Homo sapiens: one gene and its partner. The protein of the gene in region 1 purifies or fractionates together with the protein of each later gene. This does not show direct contact. Each region holds a gene or a part of one and is shown on either strand. Other genes may lie near its edges.

Region 1 (3,500 bases):
CAATCCTCACTGCAAATCTATAACATAGATATGCTCAGAATCCTTGTTTTACAGATGAGGCTCAGGGCAGTTAAGCAACTTGCTCAAGGTCACACAGCTGGTAAGTGGCAGAGCAGAGAAAGGCTCATTGGCTTGTCCCAACTCACACCCACAGGAAGCCAGACTCAGGCCTCTGAAGTTCACCATCCCAGACCCCACCATGTCCCATCTGGGTCCCTGGGGAGCTGTGGGAATATGGATCCTTGAATCTGACCAGGGGGTTCCTGGGTGCCTCTGAAAGGTCAGTCATTGTCTTTGCACTCTGGATGTTTTATAAGCTCCAGGGATAGTACATTTTACAAAAAAAAAATTATATATATATATATATATATACACACACACACACACACATATATATATAACTAATGAAATCTGAATAAAGTCTGTAGTTAATAGCATTGTACATTGTTCATTTCTTAGTGTTCATAATTATACTATGGGTATGCAAGATGTTAACATTAGGGGAAGCTGGACAATGGGTATATGGAAACACTGTGTTATTTTTGCAATTTTTTCCAAAATCTAAAGTTATTTCAAAATATAGTTTAAAAAGAGTCCCAGAGACATTTTTCTATAGGTTCACGCATTTTGTTTTATGTTTATACAACAGTTTTATTCTCTTTTCAAGCCTCTCAACCTCCAGCTCTGATATATGCCATTGATGACACCTATTGCACCTGACACGTGAGGCATCAATGTGGACTGGACTCTGTCCTTGCGGGCAGAGGGCCTGCAAGTTGGGCCCACCCTTTTATTTCCACCCGGGGAATTTCCTGGCTGTCCCTGCCTGCTCCTCTCCCCTTGAACCCAGGCGTGCCTCTACCTGGTAGTTGAGGTCTCTGACCTCCAGGGTGTTGGGCTGGCCACTGTAGGTGAAGTACAGGCTGTTGTCACTTTCAGAGGAGAACAATCTATCCTGGAGGCCCTGTGGGAGACAGGAGAGATGAGGGGCTCCTTTAGAAGCTGCTGAGAACATAGGAGAAGACAAGAAGGAAACCAACAGGTGAGAGCAACTTCTTAGAGCCGACGTGGTTAAATCTCAAATTGGCAACAGATGGGATTGCACAGGTGGAACCTCAGGGCTTTGGGAAAATAGGAGTGCTGACAAGGGCCCATCTCCTCTTCCCTTCAGAGAGAGGTTTGGGGCTTCTCCCGGGGCACCTTCCCAGAGAACCTCAACCTCAGGCTGGTGGAGCCTGAAGCCAAGCAGCTTCTGGTAAAGAGACCCAGACTCTGGACCGGAGAGAGTTCTATAAAAAAACCTCTGTGCTCTGAGAAGACCTGACTGGAGTGGGCAAACTCTTTGCCTTTAACTTTCTCTTCCCTGCAGCTGGCTTAATATCTCCTGAGGCCAAACAGACATGACACTTGCAGCATGTGAGAGGGAAGCAGCTGTTGAGAGTTAATGCCCAATATTCATGAAGATACCACCCTGAGAAAAATTCTAACCAACATCTTAGTCCTCACTAACATCTGGCATACTTCTCCTCATATCTGATTTTGATGAAGAGTTCATGCAACAAAGTGATGGAAAATGCTGCTGGGAGCTTTGAGAGGAAGTCCCTCTCATCATCATCATCATGTTGTTGTTATTGTCGAAGTGGTGGTATATTTGAATGTACATTAAAAAATCAATGTTTCATGGTGTCGGCTGATACCTTTGAATGGTATTAACCATCTGCAGATCTCAATTCCTCCTATTTTGACAATTCAATCATTTAAACCATTGAGGCCCAAACAAAGAAGCAACAGGAAGTCCCCCATCATTTCTTTTTCTTTGGATTGGGTCTCGCTCTATCACCCAGGATGGAGTGCAGTGACATGATCACAGCTCACTGCATCCTCAACCTCTCAGGCTCAAGCAATCCTCCCACCTCAGCCTCCCCACCACACCCAGCTAATTTTTGTATTTTTTGTAGAGACAGGGTTTCACCATGTTGGTCTCAAACTCCTGGGCTCAAGTGATCCACCCACCTCAGCATCCCAAAGTGCTGTGATTACAAGGGTGAACCACCTCGTCTGACCTCCATTTTTTACTGCATTCAATTTTTCTTACATTTCTGTCAGGCAGGAACAAGTACACTTTCATTAACAAGTTCCCATAGACTTTCCTCCTCAAGCTACCATTCTCACACTATACATTCCTTCAATCAACCATGCACCCAACAAACACTTATGGGGAGCCCAGAACACCCTTCAGGCTTGGAATTTGGGATGTGACAATGAAAAGGCCGTTGAAAAGCTTAGATTTTGGCAGATGAGACAGGTGATTACGATGGAGCGAGACAGACCAGGCAGAGAGGGAGGCTGACCTCAAGCATCTGACCAGGGTTTATTTTCACTATGTACACAATGCACGCACATGCTGTAGGTGAAACTAACATGACTTATGCCTTACGTGAAAATAACAAATAACATACAGCAGTCTTCTTGTCAAAGTACCCCTGCAATGATGGGGGCCAGAAGTTCTCGGAAAGAACATTCCAGGTCAGTGGAGGTGGAGGGAAAGAAATTCGGTGACAGTATGCCGCAGGCGTGCTGTGGGGAACCCTTAGAGTTCTGGGAGAGTATGAAAAACAGCAGACGAAAGTGACTTCCATTGCTTAATGTTTGAATTATCACCATAAAGACCCAAAATTATACAGAAAAAAATGGGAAAGATAAACACCTAATTCAGGAGAGGGGTTATCTCTGGGGAGCGGGGAGAGATGAAAGGAGAAAGGGGACACAGTAGGAGTGCGGGGATCAAGCTTCAAAGCTTTTGGTAATTGGTGGTGTGTACATGAGAGTTCTTTAAGCTGATTTGTGTACGATATTTCACAATATGTTGTCAAATTGAGAGAGCAAGCCAGTGAGTAGAACTCCAGAGTTCCATTCCCACCTCAACCCCAGTTGCCAAAGCCCCCAAGCAGGAGGGAGGTTGAGGGAGAGGAGGTAAGAAGGTCTGTGCCCCAAGCTCCTGAGGAGATTGAAAGCAGCTCGGACAGATGCTGGACTCCTGGCAGATCAGCCCTTCGGCCTTGCCCCTCACTCGCCCTCTCCGCTGTCACTGTGCACATTGCTTCATTGTCCCATTTTTGTTGTTGTTGTTGAATCATCAAAAAATCTTAGCCATTGCCAGCTGTGCGCAGTGGCTCATGCCTGTAATCCCAGCACTTTGGGAAGCTGAGGAGGGCAGATCACCTGAGGCCAGGAGTTCAAGACCAGCTTGGCCAAAACAGTGAAACCCTGTCTCTACTAAAAATACAAAAAAAAATTGCCGGGCATGGTGGCACACCCCTATAGTCCCAGCTACCCTACTCAAGAGGTTGAGGCAGGAGAATCACTTGAACCGGCAGGTGGAGGTGCAGGGAGCCGAGATCGTGCCTCTGCACTCCAGCCTGGGCCACAGCGTGAGACTCTGTCAAAAAAAAAAAAATCTTATCCATTTCTAAGAGACTCATGTGGGCTAACATGCATCT
Region 2 (3,500 bases), on another chromosome or scaffold:
GGGAGGGATGCAGGCGGGAAGAGCCCAGGTCAGACAGGGTATTGCACGGTGTGTGGGGGAGCCACGGCTTGCCGACCTCAGCCTGAGAGTCTCGCGGGGAGGAGGGGCTAGAAGGCTGCAGCCGCTGGTCCACACACAAGCATTGGGGCCTGGGTGCGGCTGGTCCCAGCATGCCCCCAGCACAGGACGGGCAGCAGGGGCATAAGCCTTGCTCCCAGTGTCCTCTGCCCTCGCCCGGGCAGTGCAGGCTGGGCCATGTATAAATATTCCTGAAGGCCCATGGGCGAGCCTGGCTGTCCCCCGTTCCTCTGGAAGTGACATGTGAGTGTTTCTGGTCCAATAAATAAAGGCGGCGTGAGCACTGTGCCAGCTGCCTCCTGGCCTGGTGGTGAGGCTGGAGGTGGGGCACAGCCTGACCGTGGCTATGGCGCCAGCACTTCCGCCACTGCAGCCCGCACCTAGAATTCATCATCAGAGCTGAGCAGGAGAGTCTTCTCGTTGTCGCGGGCGCCACTGAGGCTGTGGGAGCGGGAGAGGCCGTGGGCGCCACCACGCCAGGTGGGCCCAGGCTCCAGGGTGGACTGCTGCGTGTACTGCTGGTAGGCAGGTGAGAAGTTGTGGATGGCGTCCTGCACGATGTCGTGCGGGTTCATGGTCTCCTTGAGGCTGCTGGAGATGCTCTTCATGGGGGCACAGCGGCCTGCCGGGCAGGGAGCGGGAGGGGCAGGTGAGGAGGCTGGGACGGTGAGAGGGAGGTGGCTCAGCCCCTGCCCGTGATCCTGGGACAGACACCCCCCAACCCAAAGCTATGCCCTTCAACCATCCCTTCTGGGACAGAGAATGGGGTCCAGGATATGAGAAGGGGCAGGAAAAAATGGACTTCTTTGGCTGGGGAGCCCCAAGGGGAGGCTGGACTGTGAAGAGGAGCAGACATAAACCCCCACTGGGAGCTGGGCTGGCTGCAGGGAAGGGACCCAGGGTGGAGACTGGCAAGCTATGGGCAGTGAGCCTAGAATGCCCCAGAGAGGCCAGAGCAGGCTCAGCACTGACTGAAGTTGGGGCATGTGGGGCCAGAGGGCCTGGAAGCCAGGGGTGCCCGGTTCCACAGGTGCCAGGCGCGTCCCCCACCACCGGGGGAAGTGCTGTGCTCCCTCTACTCTGGAGATCAGGACCAGGCTGGCCTGCACCCCCAGGGGAGCAGATGCGACTCACTGGCTCCCTCTAAGAGGGCTTCCTCCTCATCTCTCTAATCAACTGTCCCCATCCTCAGGGGCTCAGAGCAGAAAGGTGGCCCAGGACACCTGGATGTAAGGGACGAGCCCACCCCTGGAACCCAGGATTCCTGACTCAGCTTGTGAACTCTTGGAAACATCGTGAAATGCCCCGATATCCCATGAACAGCACTGTGCCCCCAGAAGAAGGCGGGGCATATTCCAGAACGAGAAACGAGGACGGAAGCAGGCAAGCTCTACAGAGGGTGGCCCTTGACAGGTGCTCTGGGCGCTCCCACCCAGGGGGTGCCGGTGGGGAGGAGATGAGGACACGGAGAAGAGCTACAGAGAGACGCATGCCAGTGACAGTGACCAGAACTGACATGCAGGACAGACATGCAGACCAAGAGCGGGACCTACCGTAAGGGCCGTATGTTGGCACTGCCCGCGGCCAAACCCCGGGCAAAAGCAGGGCAAGGGGGGCGGGGAGAGAAGCCAAAGAAATAGAGAAGACAAGAGACAGCTGAGTGAACAATGTGTGCCCACCACCGAGGCCCACCAGCACGACACACCACACACCCTGTCCCCACCCCCCCAGGCCCCACAGGGCACCCAGGAAGCTCCAGGTGCCTCCTGGGGCCTGGCAGGGGGGATATCCACCTAGGGATGACTCCTCCCCTGGTGTTCACGCCAACAGGAAACATCCGTCTGGCGACTGAGTTCCGCCTCCACGTCTAGGTCAGGACGTCCCATCCCCACTTCTTCCCCGGCTAGCCTGGGGCCACATCCACACCTCACATTTTACAAACCTCACAACACTTCCCAGACCAGGACATGGAGGCTCAGAGGGAGGGGTTACAATCGCACAGCTGAGCCAGCTCTGCACCTAAGCCTATCCTGAGGGCTGAGGGTCTGGGCCTGGGTTAGAGGGTAGCAGGGGGCTCAGGACCAGTGGGGAGGCAGAAGAGGGCAAGCAGCTTCCCCGGCCGGGCGTGGGTATGTCTAGAGGGACAGCTCAGGCCAGGCAGCAGAGCCCCTCTGCTGAGCCCCAGTGGTGCAGGAATGGTTCTCTGCCATGGGCCCCCTTGCTCCTTGGGGTGGCCCCAGGCCCCAGGCCCAAGGATGATGTTCCCACGGGCACAGGGTATACCACACCAGGTCCAAGGGACACTGCCCTCAATGCTGGGTGTGTGTTTGCTAGATCCTTCCAACTGGGCCACCAGGTGGCAACCCCTGGCCTTTGTGCACCTGCTCTTTGGGCACAGAGTAGGTCTTCCCCCACCAGGGAAGGCACAGAGGAAGGGGGGCGGGAAGTGGGCCGCGGAGCCCCGCTGCAGGCAGACATTTCTACAGTCCACACCACCCACCACGGAGCCTGTGTGGGGCCTGCAGGTAGGCCCTGGGGAAGTGGGTTTCTTGCCTCCAGCCACTCGGGCAGACAGCTGGCAGCAGCCAGGCTCCTGGGTGGATGTGTCAGAGAAGGAGGCTCCCCTCTCCCCAGTCCCTCCTGCCCCTTTACTGGCTCAATCAGTCTCAGGCATTCCCAGCCTCCTCTTCCCCATCCTCCAAGGACAACCCCCTTCTGCCCAGTGGCCAGAGGCAGCCCTTCCAGCCCAGTGGAGCGTCCCGGGCAGCAGCACTTTCACATCACCCTGGGAGTGCTTAAAGCACAGAACTCTCACAGCACACCCAGCCTGCCAGCCCGGACCCATTACAGCGGGATCTCCGAGGGTGGGGCTGGGTATCAGCACTTCCAAAAGCTCTCCAGGGCATTTTCCAGTACAACTGGGGCTACTTACCACTGTTCTAGCAAGGAGGAAGATTCGCAGGTGTAAAAGAAAGCTGTTAAAACCTATTACCATCCGAGTCTGTTTCTCAGAAGTATTCTTTTTTTTCTTTCTTTCTTTTTTTTGAGACGGAGTCTTGCTCTGTCACCCAGGCTGGAGTGCAATGGCACAATCTCGCTCACTGCAAGCTCCGCCTCCTGGATTCACACCATTCTCCTGCCTCAGCCTCCCGAGTAGCTCGGACTACAAGCACCCGCCACCACGCCCGGCTAATTTTTTGTATTTTTAGTAGAGACAGGGTTTCACCGTGTTAGCCAGGATGGTCTCGATCTCCTGACCTTGTGATCCACCCGCCTCGGCCTCCCAAAGTGCTGGGATTATAGGCGTGAGCCACCGTGCCCGGCCAGAAGTATCCTTTTTTTAAAAAATAGCATATGAGATGAGGGAATTACAGGACAAAATGGTAACCACAGTGTTGGGAGTTAGAAGCCCGAGGGAATTT

Evidence for each region. The genes of interacting proteins can lie anywhere in the genome.
Region 2: the proteins of ABCG8 (region 1) and TMEM184B purify together in Homo sapiens (affinity purification with mass spectrometry; one large-scale study listed by BioGRID and IntAct). This does not show direct contact.

What each region holds. Positions count from the first base shown.
Region 1 is NC_000002.12:43,841,971-43,845,470, reverse strand, and holds part of ABCG8 (ATP-binding cassette sub-family G member 8), read right to left. Parts: intron 1,685-3,500; exon of another isoform or gene 1,370-1,684; intron 1,043-1,369; exon of another isoform or gene 965-1,042; coding exon 863-964; intron 1-862. UniProt on the Homo sapiens protein: ABCG5 and ABCG8 form an obligate heterodimer that mediates Mg(2+)- and ATP-dependent sterol transport across the cell membrane.
Region 2 is NC_000022.11:38,221,011-38,224,510, forward strand, and holds part of TMEM184B (transmembrane protein 184B), read right to left. Parts: exon of another isoform or gene 3,469-3,500; intron 1,653-3,468; coding exon of another isoform or gene 1,632-1,652; intron 737-1,631; coding exon of another isoform or gene 701-736; coding exon 459-700; 3' UTR 1-458. UniProt on the Homo sapiens protein: May activate the MAP kinase signaling pathway.